Homo sapiens: one gene and its partners. The protein of the gene in region 1 interacts with the protein of each later gene in a pairwise test. Each region holds a gene or a part of one and is shown in the gene's direction. Other genes may lie near its edges.

The links. Proteins that work in one complex are often made in the same cells at the same time.
Region 2: the proteins of BIRC3 (region 1) and UBE2Q2 interact in a two-hybrid assay, tested with the Homo sapiens proteins (one study listed by BioGRID).
Region 3: the proteins of BIRC3 (region 1) and SNX7 interact in a two-hybrid assay, tested with the Homo sapiens proteins (one large-scale study listed by BioGRID and IntAct).
Region 4: the proteins of BIRC3 (region 1) and CYFIP2 interact in a two-hybrid assay, tested with the Homo sapiens proteins (one large-scale study listed by BioGRID and IntAct).

The regions. Positions count from the first base shown.
Region 1 is NC_000011.10:102,323,984-102,327,483, forward strand, and holds part of BIRC3 (baculoviral IAP repeat-containing protein 3), read left to right. Parts: 5' UTR 1-526; coding exon 527-1,379; intron 1,380-1,482; coding exon 1,483-1,582; intron 1,583-3,500. UniProt on the Homo sapiens protein: Multi-functional protein which regulates not only caspases and apoptosis, but also modulates inflammatory signaling and immunity, mitogenic kinase signaling and cell proliferation, as well as cell invasion and metastasis.
Region 2 is NC_000015.10:75,874,447-75,877,946, forward strand, and holds part of UBE2Q2 (ubiquitin-conjugating enzyme E2 Q2), read left to right. Parts: intron 1-378; coding exon of another isoform or gene 379-387; exon of another isoform or gene 388-462; intron 463-1,740; coding exon 1,741-1,825; intron 1,826-3,500.
Region 3 is NC_000001.11:98,692,721-98,696,220, forward strand, and holds part of SNX7 (sorting nexin-7), read left to right. Parts: intron 1-2,797; coding exon 2,798-2,996; intron 2,997-3,500. UniProt on the Homo sapiens protein: Involved in the regulation of endocytosis and in several stages of intracellular trafficking. Together with SNX4, involved in autophagosome assembly by regulating trafficking and recycling of phospholipid scramblase ATG9A.
Region 4 is NC_000005.10:157,391,623-157,395,122, forward strand, and holds part of CYFIP2 (cytoplasmic FMR1-interacting protein 2), read left to right. Parts: intron 1-1,210; coding exon 1,211-1,378; 3' UTR 1,379-3,500. UniProt on the Homo sapiens protein: Involved in T-cell adhesion and p53/TP53-dependent induction of apoptosis. Does not bind RNA. As component of the WAVE1 complex, required for BDNF-NTRK2 endocytic trafficking and signaling from early endosomes.

The DNA.
Region 1 (3,500 bases):
TTTCCTGGCCACTAAATTTCACAATTTCCAAAAAGCAAAATAAACATATTCTGAATATTTTTGCTGTGAAACACTTGACAGCAGAGCTTTCCACCATGAAAAGAAGCTTCATGAGTCACACATTACATCTTTGGGTTGATTGAATGCCACTGAAACATTCTAGTAGCCTGGAGAAGTTGACCTACCTGTGGAGATGCCTGCCATTAAATGGCATCCTGATGGCTTAATACACATCACTCTTCTGTGAAGGGTTTTAATTTTCAACACAGCTTACTCTGTAGCATCATGTTTACATTGTATGTATAAAGATTATACAAAGGTGCAATTGTGTATTTCTTCCTTAAAATGTATCAGTATAGGATTTAGAATCTCCATGTTGAAACTCTAAATGCATAGAAATAAAAATAATAAAAAATTTTTCATTTTGGCTTTTCAGCCTAGTATTAAAACTGATAAAAGCAAAGCCATGCACAAAACTACCTCCCTAGAGAAAGGCTAGTCCCTTTTCTTCCCCATTCATTTCATTATGAACATAGTAGAAAACAGCATATTCTTATCAAATTTGATGAAAAGCGCCAACACGTTTGAACTGAAATACGACTTGTCATGTGAACTGTACCGAATGTCTACGTATTCCACTTTTCCTGCTGGGGTTCCTGTCTCAGAAAGGAGTCTTGCTCGTGCTGGTTTCTATTACACTGGTGTGAATGACAAGGTCAAATGCTTCTGTTGTGGCCTGATGCTGGATAACTGGAAAAGAGGAGACAGTCCTACTGAAAAGCATAAAAAGTTGTATCCTAGCTGCAGATTCGTTCAGAGTCTAAATTCCGTTAACAACTTGGAAGCTACCTCTCAGCCTACTTTTCCTTCTTCAGTAACAAATTCCACACACTCATTACTTCCGGGTACAGAAAACAGTGGATATTTCCGTGGCTCTTATTCAAACTCTCCATCAAATCCTGTAAACTCCAGAGCAAATCAAGATTTTTCTGCCTTGATGAGAAGTTCCTACCACTGTGCAATGAATAACGAAAATGCCAGATTACTTACTTTTCAGACATGGCCATTGACTTTTCTGTCGCCAACAGATCTGGCAAAAGCAGGCTTTTACTACATAGGACCTGGAGACAGAGTGGCTTGCTTTGCCTGTGGTGGAAAATTGAGCAATTGGGAACCGAAGGATAATGCTATGTCAGAACACCTGAGACATTTTCCCAAATGCCCATTTATAGAAAATCAGCTTCAAGACACTTCAAGATACACAGTTTCTAATCTGAGCATGCAGACACATGCAGCCCGCTTTAAAACATTCTTTAACTGGCCCTCTAGTGTTCTAGTTAATCCTGAGCAGCTTGCAAGTGCGGGTTTTTATTATGTGGGTAAGAAACTGAATCTGCTAATTAAAAAAAATATATTTCATTTTATACATTTTAGTGGGCAAATTATGTGTATTCATAAGTTTTGGTCTAAAATTAATTTTAGGTAACAGTGATGATGTCAAATGCTTTTGCTGTGATGGTGGACTCAGGTGTTGGGAATCTGGAGATGATCCATGGGTTCAACATGCCAAGTGGTTTCCAAGGTAATTGTTTTGAAATTCTCTTTGCAAATTCTTGTGATTATCATGAGATTGCTTATATGTGTTCACCTGAAATCAGTTGTTACTTTACTCTGTTCCAAATATATATTTGTGAATAAGTTTAGGATGGATTACTTAGTAAAATACTTACTTAAAAAGTTTCGATGGACTTAAGACAACGAAGAAATAGATTTGGGGATTTTTGTTTAATTTTTAAAGAAATATATATATATTTAAATAATACATGCTCATTATAAAAACAAAGTCACACATTGTAGAAAAGCACAGAGAAGGAAAATTAAAATGTCCAGAAATCTTACCGCCTAAGGATGAGCATGGTTACCACTTTAGTGAACATCCCTCCAGACATATAGAAATAAATGTATATGATACATATACATATAGAAATAAATACATATACATATAGAAATAAATGTACACCATTTTACATAAGTTAAATATTATATCTAGTTTTGAAGTTTTTTCAGTCAACATTTGTCTTGGATATATTTCCATTCATTCGGTATTCAATAATAATTGATCACCTATTGGCAGGCATTGTTCTGGGTGCATAAAATCAGTTGAACAAAACAAAGACCCCTGGTCTCCTAAGTTTTTATTATAGCACGAGAGAACAGACAACTAATAAAAACTTGAATAAGTTCTATAGCATGTTGGAAAATAAGTACAATCAATAAAAAGAACAAAGAGGAGTTTAGAAATGCCAGGCAGGTTACAATATTAAATTGGGTGGTCAGGGTAAGTATAGACTCATCTCATCTGTTTTAGTCGCCACGCAGCATTTTAATGTGATGTGTTACCCTTTTGATTGTTTAACTGGCCACCTAGTGTTCTAGTTAATCCTGATTAGCTTGCAAGTGTGGGTTTTTATCACGTGGGTAAGAAACTTAATGTACTAACTAAAATATCAGCTTCAAAAAGTTTTTTACACTCTCCTTTTTCATCTAAATCATGTGGCCTACAATTACATTTTTTCATGGTCAAAACTTTTGCTATTATTCAACCCGTTTCCCATTTGCCCTGAGAATACTGCACTGGCAACAAGCTGCACTGTTTTTTTTCTAAATGGGAAATGGGTTAATATCGATTAATAAATGTGGCATCTTAACTTATTTTGATTACTTTTTTTCCTCTTTTCTTTTGAGATGGAGCCTGGCTCTGTTGCCCAGATTGGAGTGCGATGGTGTGATGTCAGCTCACTGCAACCTCCGCCTCTTGGGTTCAGGCAATTCTCATGCCTCGAGCCTCGCTAGTAGCTGGGATTACAGGTGCACGCTAGCATGCCCAGCTAATTTTTGTATTTTTGTAGAGACAGGGTTTCACCATGTTGTCCAGGCTGGTCTCAAACTCCTGACCTCAGGACTTTGAGGTGCTTGCCCGGCCAACATCAGTGTGTTTTAAGAATCTTAGAAGAGTTGAAGAGAGTAGCTAAGAGCTCTGAGGAGAGATGGTCTTACTTGACCTCAGTAGACTGAGGGGCTCCTGACCCTTGTCCACTTGAGCCTTGGTAGATAACTAGTAATCACCTTCCTCTTGCTTATATCAACCTGCCTTTCACTGCAATATCTCTGACCATTCCCTATATGCTAAATGAATAGTAAATTGATTATATGTACATTTATACTCATTTGAAATATTTATACTTCACAATATATTAAGAGTAAATTGATTATATGTATGTTTATACTCACTTGAAATAGCCAGTCTACAAATGGCTGGATTAGTCCTGCCCAAATTAAGATAAACCTTTAGAACTTTTCAAAATTAGCTGAAGTGGTCGGGTGCAGTGGCTCATGCCTGTAATCGCAGCACTTTGGGAGGCTGAGGCAGGAGGATCACTTGAGGTCAGGAGTTCGAGACCAGTATGGCAACATGGTAAAGCCCCATCTCCACTAAAAAT
Region 2 (3,500 bases), on another chromosome or scaffold:
CTAATTTTTGTATTTTTAGTAGAGACAGGGTTTCACCATGTTGGCCAGGCTGGTCTTGAACTCCCGACTTCAAGTGATCCACCTGCCTTGGCCTCCCGAAGTGCTGGGATTACAGGTGTGAGCCACTGTGTCCGGCCACAACTTAATATCTCTTTTACGTGAAGCAGCAGGATGTGAAAAGAACACTGAGTCTGGTGACAAACACACAATTTATGGTTTCACTTTCCTCAGCTCTAAAATATGGCTAGACAGTACATACCTTTTGGATGATTGCTATCAAAAATAAATGAAAATGATGTGTGTATATATATAAAATGCTCAGAGTAGGGAAACATCAAATGATTGTCTGAACACTTACTACTTTTTGCCTTGTGTTAGAGCTATTGACCAACTCCGTGAAATCTGAGTAGCAGTTACTTTGTCTTGGGCACAGGTTCCCCAAAACAGGGAATGAATTGTTAGGTAAGTAGATGCCAAATGTTGAAAACAGGTAGATTACTCTCCCTCCTTCAGTCTAATTTATATATTAATCTAATTTATAATTTTTAGTAGAGCAAAGAAATTTAGTCAAGCCCCCATATCTTGATTACTTAAAAAACAAAGTTTGTCATTTGAATTAATGATGACTGTACTTTATGTCTTGTGATCGATTCCAGTTTGAGTTATAGTCAAAACAACTATAAGTTACTGAACACTTTTGCATGATGGATACTATGCCAAGTACTTTATACTTCACATATCTTCACATTTAGTCTTCATAGCCACCGTGTGAAATAGGTATGCTTCATATTTTAGAGATAGGAAAAACTTCTCATATTTTGTAGATATGAAATGAGCTAGGAAACTTGATTTTTCCCCCCTTCAAAGTATAGTGCAATGTTTAAAATCTTTAATTTCACGTGACCAAAAAATAGTTCCGTTTGTATTTAGTCTTATGATAAGATATTGATGTGTTTTCATCTTTAGAGATGTCCCTGCACTGAAAAACTGAAACCAGTCGCATGTAGGCAGATGTTTCTCAGTGTCTTAATGTGCGAACTAGACCATCTGTGTAATATTCTTGTTTGTAGTCTTATGAATGGAACTCTATTTTAGTAAATAATGTGTCACCTTGAGTGTCTTCTAGTATTTTCAAAAATTGCTGGGGTTTGGAATAGACTCATACTGAATTCTTTGTTATTGTGGAATCCATGGTGGTCTGGACATGTTGGCTAGACTTTTTCACATGAGAAGAAATAGGAAATGAACTAGACTTGTGCCTAGTTTTAATATCCTCTTGAAACTTCATAATGCTTCATTTAATTGGGCTTTTTTTTACTTCTTAAAATGTTGAGGTTGGGCACAGTGGCTCATGCCTGTAATCCCAGCACTTTGGGAGGCCGAGGCAGGCAGACCACGAGGTCAAGAGATTGAGACCATCCTGGCCAACATGGTGAAATCCCGTCTCTACCAAAAAAAAAAATACAAAATTTAGCTGGGCGTGGTGGTGCGCACCTGTAGTCTCAGCTACTTGGGAGGCTGAGGCAGGAGAATCTCTTGAGCAGGGAGGCGGAGGTTGCAGTGAACTGAGATTGCGCCACTGCACTCCAGCCTGGGTAACAGGGCTAGACTCCATCTCCAAAAAAAAAAAAAAAAAATGTTGAGTGGTGATCCATTTTTGCTGTAATCTTTTAGATCAGGTTGAAATATCTTAAATCTTAGCTCAGCAGACCCTGGTAAACAGTGGCTTTTGTGTTTCAGGGTGCAGTGTCTGGGTCAGTGCAAGCTTCAGATAGACTTATGAAAGAGCTCAGGGACATATACAGATCACAGAGTTATAAAACAGGTAAGGATCTCTGGATCCCTGCTCTCTTTATGATTCTTCTGCTCTTTTCTATTGTCAGATTATAAATGTCATTTCTTAAAACTGGACAGAAATGGAAATGTTTACTAGCTTTATTTCAGGAATGTGAAACTCAAATGCAATCAAGTTCCAAAAGATGTAGGAGTAAAATAGGATGAGTTTACTTGTCTTTTGGATTTTTAAAAAATGTTTTTATAGGTCCATTGGAATTTTGTCCTCTTCTTGATAAACAGTGAACTCTTACATGATTTTTATCTTCTGGGGAAAGCATGAGCGATATTGCTTGGAAAGTAAATAAGAGTAAAACATTTCATTTTACAGAGAATAATTGCCAAGTTGATTTTTATGATTCCCCCCCATTTTTGAAAGCAAGATAATCAGCTTTTATTGTAAAGATAGTTATGTTATTACCTTTAAAATATATAAGTTTTTAAAGTTTTCATTTCCTTGTTTGACGAGTATTCTTACTCAATATGACTTGAATGTTATGGAACCTCTCTAACTAGAGGTAAAATTCTCATATTGTTATGGAGATTCTAATAGTATTAAATAATGAGCCAAACTTTAATTTGAAAAGATAGCATTGGTTGGGTGCGGTGGCTCACACTTATAATCCCTGCACTTTGGGAGGCCAAGGTGGTCAGCTCACCTGAGGTCAAGAGTTCAAGACCAGCCTGGCCAACATGGCGAGCGAAGCCCCATCTCTACTAAAAATAAAAAATTAGCCGGGTGTGGTGGCGCACGCCTGGTGATCCGAGCTACTCAGTGGTCTGAGGCAGGAGAATCACCTGAACCCAGGAGGCAGAGGCTGTAGTGAGCCAAGATTGCACCACCGCACTCCAGCCTGGGCAGCAAGAGTGAGACTCTGTCAAAAAAAAAAAAAAAAAAAAAAAAGGGTTATGACCGATTCAATTCTAGCATTATGACCGATTCAGGAATTCTTAGCGTGAGCAAATCAAAATTAATTAGAATTTGCTTAAAGAATAAAAACAAGGAAAAAATCCTTGCTTTGTAGTGTGCAGGATAAGCCAAACTTGTTTCTGAGTTGTTAGAATTGTGGGTGTCCTTACGGTTTTTTGTGTAAGAAGTCTAAAAGTTTATCTGTAGAAACCTAATAAAGTACAAACATTTGAATACTGGTTTTATTTTTAAATGTTAAATAATCATTTGTTTCAGCATTGTTTATATAGAAAAAAAAAAACAGATACTGGGTGGAATTTGTTAAAGCATATCCATAAAATAAACTACCACAGAGTCATTAAAAAGATTGTGAATAGGTTTATGTATACTAACTTGGAAAGATGTCCCTGAAAGTTGAAGAGAGATTATAAAACAACATACGTAGAAGGATTCCATCTTTGTAGAAATGTGTGTTCATGGAAGAAAAGTCTTAAGTACATATGATTTTGCATAATCTTTTTTTCAGTCAGACTAAACGGTAAGCAGTTTTTCAACTCATTAAAGAATCTTCTCAGTTGATGGCTGTAATTATCTGTTAAGGGCATAAGATACTCAGCTGCAGTAGTGTAATATTTACTATATAGCTTAGTTGTTCCATGTTTTAAGAGCAAAATTTCTAGCTTTCGTTGGCTATTTAGTGTATACATTTATACCATAGTAATAGTTATATGATGAAATGAAGAGTAGCTAACATGCT
Region 3 (3,500 bases), on another chromosome or scaffold:
ATAGTACAGTGTGTAGTGTAGTTAATTTTAAGCAGTTTTGATTTAATACTGCATCTTTATGTTTGTTTACATTTCTCTCAACTGCATATGGTGGCATGTAAGTCAAAATATGTGCATACGTTTTGATAAATTTTAACTTTTTATAATAGATTTATACACATTTTAGGGTAGTAAATGATAGACTAGTATCCACATACATTTTGTGGATTCATGACATACCTTTCTCTCAGTTTTTTCTACATTTCTGGACTATGTGGTTTGTGAGGTTTTTTTAGTTGTCACAAATCTCCAAAAAATTTTCCAGTATATTTATTGAAAAAAGTCCACATGTGTGGACCTGCTTAGCTCACACCTGTGTTGTTCAAGGGTCTACTTTATTTTGAGTAATAATGGATCAGGGCTTTTTAAGTTAGGATAAAAGTCCTTATTAAATGGGTAGATGGATGAATGGAGATGGATGGATGGATGGATGGATGGATGGACGGACAGATAGATAATATAATCTCCTTACTTTTCCTTTAATTATCTAAGTGGGGGAGTGTCTAATTTCTAATACAGAAACCTTATCCATTCTACTTGTTTTTTCTTTTATTCTATAAAGCTATAACTCTGCAAGAAAGATACCAGACAGGACAAAGGGTCAATATTAAACAGTTACTGGCAAATGTTGAGTTTTATATCTCTCAGTTGTTGCCAGTGGTAGAAGCTAAAAAGTGGTTCATTTCAATCTTGACAGATAGTCCTCTATGGAAGCCCTTTGTGACTTATGTGAAATGAATATGCGGCCTGACTTCAGAACCTTAGAAGCTGTTAGAAATATTTTCTACAGTCAACAGTTTCAGTAACAGCTTGCCAGTTGTGACGTGAGCTGTCTCTGATAATGTTTACTCTATCAAATGAGGCTGTAGCACTCTTGGATGGATGTATTGCCTGGTCAAGGATGGCATCTGTTATTATTGGCACAAAAGAAATCACACAGAATTGGAAATAAACAAGTTTACTTTGTATGTATTCTGCAAGATATTCAGGAATGAAAACCTGAAGGAAGATAGACAATGTGTTATTTAATATTTGGGTAAATAATATATAATATTTTTATCTGTAAATTAGGTAGTCAGCAGTATTTTATTTGATCATATATTTTATTCGATCCCAAGCTTGTGTCTCAACAAGGGCCACAATGATTATTAAAATCCCTTGTCCTTTTTTGTTTGTATTTGTTCTTTTAACTTATGCCATACTTCTCAAGGGATATGTTTCTGTGCAGTATATTCTTTTATAGGATGTTTTCTATTTTGCAAGTCTATAGTCGTCCCTCCTAGGTTAAGTATGAAATAACTAGTTTCGTATCTTATTACAAGTTTTCTCAGCTGGGCGCGGTGGCTCACGCCTGTAATCCCAGCACTTTGGGAGGCCGAGGCGGGCGGATCACAAGGTCAGGAGATCGAGACCATCTTGGCTAACACGGTGAAACCCCGTCTCTACTAAAAATACAAAAAATTAGCCGGGCGCGGTGGTGGGCACCTGTAATCCCAGCTACTCAGGAGGCTGAGGCAGGAGAATGGCATGAACCCGGGAGGCGGAGCTTGCAGTGAGCCAGGATTGTGCCACTGCAGTCCAGCCTGGGCGAAAGAGCGAGACTCCGTCTCAAAAAAAAAAAAAAAAAAAAAGTTTTCTCTGTAGACAGCCAGTTGGTGAAGGTGGTGTCACTGTTTACCCACTTCATTTGGCTGAAGTGCTATGTTCAGGTAGTATCTATTTACAAACCATCCTAATGACTTTAAGCGGGCAGAGCAAGTTGGTGCTTAATAATGAAGCCTCTGGAATCAGACTTCCAGGATTCCAGTTCTTGCTCTACCACTTAATTGCTCTGGGATTTTTTTTTTTTTTTTTTTTTTTTTTTTTGAGATGGAGTCTCGCTCTGTGGCTCAGGCTGGAGTGCAGTGGCATGATCTCGGCTCACTGCAACCTCTGCCTCCTGGGTTCACGCCATTCTCCTGCCTCAGCCTCCCAAGTAGCTGGGACTACAGGCACCTGCCACCACGCCAGGCTAATTTTTTTGTATTTTTAGTAGAGAGGGAGTTTCACCGTGTTAGCCAGGGTAGTCTCGATCTCCTGACCTCATGTATGCCCTCCTCGGCCTCCCAAAGTACTGGGATTACGGACGTGAGCCACTGCACCCGGCCTGCTCTGGGATCTTGAGCAAGTTAGTTAACTTTCCTGTGCCTCTATTTTCTTCTGTAAAATGAGGAAAATAATAAAACCTACCTCATAGGTTTATGGTGAATTACGTGTATTAAAATGTCAGTATAGTGCCCAGAATGTATTAAGCTCTAAATAAATGTTAGCTACTATTACATCTAAAGAATTAATGAAGTTTTCCAATTTTATTTTTTGGAGTATAACTTAGGCCCTGAGAAATCTTCTCTCAATCATTTTCCATTAAATTCCTATTATAAAATATAGATGGTATGTCATATTATCCTTATCTCCTCTAGTATCTCATTGAGCACTATTCTGTCGGTTAAACCCTGTTCTTTTAAAGATTTACGGTCTGAGGAAAGACTATATACCTGTTTTACATGAGTAGTGTGAAAGGGAATATTATTGAGGCTGCCACTTAGAGGAAACACTGTACCTTAATAAAGCTCATCTGCTTCAAGCTAACATTAAAAAAGATTGATGCCTATGAAACCATTTTATCTTGATTTTATTCTCCTAATTAGGTTTATTTTTGTATTGAGTCTCGGAATATTGAGACTTGTTTCACTAGAAATACTTGGTTTTTTGTTTCTAGGAACTCTCTTCTCACAAGAAGCAAGGTCCTGGCTTGCTAAGCAGGATGGGGCAAACCGTCAGAGCTGTTGCGTCCTCAATGAGAGGAGTTAAAAACCGCCCAGAGGAGTTCATGGAAATGAATAACTTTATTGAACTATTTAGCCAGAAAATAAATTTGATAGATAAAATATCTCAGAGAATTTATAAGGAAGAAAGGGGTAAGTAGAATTACTGAAATGTGATTTCAAAGTTGTTCAGTTTCTGATGAATCTTCACATTTGTTGGTGTAATATAGCAACATTCAGTTAGAATGTCAGCTTCAAAGTGTGGCTTATTCCTAGCCATCTTATGGACATTTCTGATTCCTAAATGATTTCGAAGGTAGTTATGGCCAGTCTCCATTTTCACTTTTATCAATCACTAGCTGCTCTACTTCCCATTCATAGATAATAGTGGTAAAGTAAGCCCGAGTTAAAGATTGTGGATGTGGTTGTTTGTATTCAACATGGAACAGAGCTCAGAATCAAAGAAGTGATGTTTCAGGAAATAGGGTTTTCATATTTTCTGGTAATTATTTTTTTCTGGAGGGAACAGATACTCTGTATTAAACCTGTCGAAGTATGGCAGAGAGATTTACGTATTGGAAAATCTGCCTCTTTTCCTATTTTCTTTTTTTTTTTTAGTTTATAAATCAGAATTGTTGGTGAATTTTTTTCTAATTC
Region 4 (3,500 bases), on another chromosome or scaffold:
TATGGCTGTATAATATTGCATTGTGTATATAGACCACGTTGTGTTTGTCCACTCAGGTTGCTGTCACCTTTTGGGTATTTTTGAAAATGGTTAATTTTGGCTACCATGAAACATGGGTGTACAAATAACTCTACAAATTTCTGCTTTCCATTCTTTTGAGTATATACCTGGACGTGGAATTGCTGGATCGTATGGTAATTCTATGTTTAACTTTTTAGAAACTGCCATTCTGTTTTCCATAGTGGCTGCACAATTTTACATTCCCACCAGCAGTACACAAGAGTTCCAATTTCTCCACATCCTCATCAGCACTTATTCTTTAATAATAGTCATCCTGAGGGGTGAAAAAGTTATCTTGTTGTGATTTTGATTTGAATTTCCCTAATGACTGTCACTGCTGAGTGCTATATTCATGTGTTATTGGCCATTTGTATATCTTCTTTAGAAAAATGTCTATTCAAGTCCTTTGTCCATTTTTTTAATTGAGTCATTTTTGTTGAGTTGAAGTTCTTTACATATTCTAGATATTACTTATCAGATATAATTTGTGATTATTTTCTATTTTTCGGTTGCCTTTTCATTCTCATGGTGTCCCTTTGATGCATGAAAGTTTTCAATTTTGATGTAGTGCAACTTTTTGCCTTTGCTTTTGATGTCATACCCCAAGATATTATTGCCAAATCCAACATCATGAAAATTTTTCCCCTATATTCTCTTTTAAGAATTTCAGTTTAATCTCATGGTTACGTCTCTAATCCATTCTGAGTTAATTTTTTGTATATGGTATAAGGTAAGCGTCCATTGTTATTTTTTGTGTGGGTATCCATATTTCCCAGCACCTTTTGTTGAAAAGGCTGTTTCCCCCATTGAACAGTCTTGGCACCCTTGTTGAAAATCATTTGATCATATGTGTAATAGTGTATTTCTGGGCTCTCTATTCTGTTTTATTCATCTGTACATCTACCTTTTTACCAGTGCCACAGTGTTGTTGATTATTGTAGCTCTGTAGATCGTTTTAAAACTTGGAGAGGGTTTTTACGGTCCAGTTAACACTTGATTGCCAGATCCAGGGGATTCCATAAAAGGACTTTAAGAAAGTGACATGATCACTGATGCAGGGGACCCTGGACCTCAGTGACTTCTCCTGTTACTCCCTCTTTCCACCCCCACTTTGTCCTGCCCTAACTTGAACATCCCCTTCCTTCTGTAGCCCCTGAAGAAGATGGCCGACCGGATCAGGAAGTATCAGATCTTGAACAATGAGGTTTTTGCCATCCTGAACAAATACATGAAGTCCGTGGAGACAGACAGTTCCACTGTGGAGCATGTGCGCTGCTTCCAGCCACCCATCCACCAGTCCTTGGCCACCACTTGCTAAGCAGAAGATCCTGCAGACCCTTATCTGGAGGAGGAAGAGAAGCAGGAGAGAGAAAGCCACAGCCAGCCTGCCATAGGATCCAACTGGACAACGTGTGGGATGGACCTGGAAACAAGCACCTCCCCAAACACATCACCACTCCCTAGGGCGGGGCCTGTGCATGCTCTCCCATGACATCTCCATGCTGGTTTCTCCATAGCATAAATGAAAAAAAAAAAAAAAAAGTAAACAGGGCAGTGTGTGCTTTTTCTTTTCTCCCCCCTCAACTATATTAAGAACTCCTAGTTTCACCCTTTCTCCATCCCATCATCCCACCTATCTGTGGTTGCTTCCCAAGACCTCCTCCCAAGATAGACATCTCCTACCCAGTGCCCTTGTGTGACCCCAGGACTCAAGTCTCAGACTGTGAACAGATGTGGCCATGCCCAGAGACGCCAGCCTGGCCAGAAGGGCATGCCTCAGCTTACTACTTCATCTCTCCTGGTTCCCTCCCTGCAGTGCCCCGGGTGTCATCTTCTCCCACTCTGGGTACCAGGGATTCTACCACATAGGCTTCCCAAAGCCCCATTCTAACTCCCCTCTCTCAGGGAAGCCCTAGAGAGAGGTCCAAAAAGCATTCACAGCTGTATCACACTCTATGCAGGTGGGGTAGGAGACTGATCAGGCCTGCTGTGGGGAAGCAGTATGTATGAACACAGCCAGAAATGTCATAGTCCAAACAGGATGCTTTCAGGCCATCTCAGCTGCTTGATGGTGAGATGGTTCCCTTATTCCTTCAGGAAAGGCTTAGCATTGGGCCACATAGGGGAAGCAGCTTTGAACAAATCAGTCATAGCACTGCCTATAGCATTAGCCAGTGACCAAATTAGGGACAACGTCTTGGCACAGAATTGCTTATCAAGGAACATTTCCACAAGAAAGAAAATATTAAGGGGTTATTTCCACAGAAGCCCAAAACGTCTTGGAAACACAGAGGTGAGGAGGAGGAATAGTAATTGTCAATGAGCTTTTAATACCAAGATACACCCCCTGCCCCCAAAGAAGAGTCCTCTTTTAGGGAATCAGAACCTTCATTGTCCTAGAAGCTGAAAGATTCTTGGAACATTTTAGCTTTTACTCTCAACTTGCTGTTCTCTTTACATTCCTTAAGTTAGACTTTCGGGTGTGGCTTCTCTCCCAGGGGTAACATTTACTTCCATTTTCTAGACTGAACCAAAAGTCTTCTGCAGAATCTCCCACCGAGTGTGGTAAGAAGGAAGGACAAAAGGCTTTAGGATATAAATTTCATGTTACAGAGCATGTCATTGTCAAAGGAAATCTGTGGCCCTGAGATTTTAAGAACATAAAATGTGACATTTGATATTTCTCCAGCCCAGGGAAGTAAGATGGTTAGCAATGGTTGCCTTAATCAAATGGTCCCATTTTTAACCCCAAAGGAAGTGCCCACAGCAAGAGGTTTGTGTGATGCACTTATGTCCTCCGGTGAGGAAAGGGGGCCACATATGAAAGGCCCCTTAGGTCAGATCCTGAGAGTAGCACATTTGAGTGCAGATTCCTGGGCCCCACCTCAAACCTACTAATTCTGAATCTCTGGGAATAGGGCCAGGAAATCTGCCCTTTCTACAAACTACCCAAGTTGTTCTGTTGCACATCAATGTTTGGGAACCACTGCTGTAAGGGAATCATTCTGGTCACCTTGAGCTTTGAGCTACCACTAAGCCATGAAAGAAAATACATCATACAGGGAAGAGAGAAGGGAGGAGGTTCCAAGTAGTAACTGGCAGATCCTCCTGTCTGGAGGTACCACCTTCTATTCTGGTTTCTGACTTTTCCTTCTTGATGACCATAGATGTGTTCCAGAGGCAAAAGAGACACATTATCCCAGATGGCAGAACATGCTTTCAAAACATATAAAATGTCAAAGTTCCAGATCCTTCTACATCTTTAGTCCTGTCTGAGGATGGTAGCTGGCTCTCTGTAGCTGATAGATGGCTAGAGTTCCATCCAAATCCTTGACCACGACTTCATGGAGATTTGAATAATCTATTTGATGAGATTTCTATTTCAATAACCCACCTCTCTCACCCCACATTCATATCCCTAAATTTGACCCTCTGGGCCG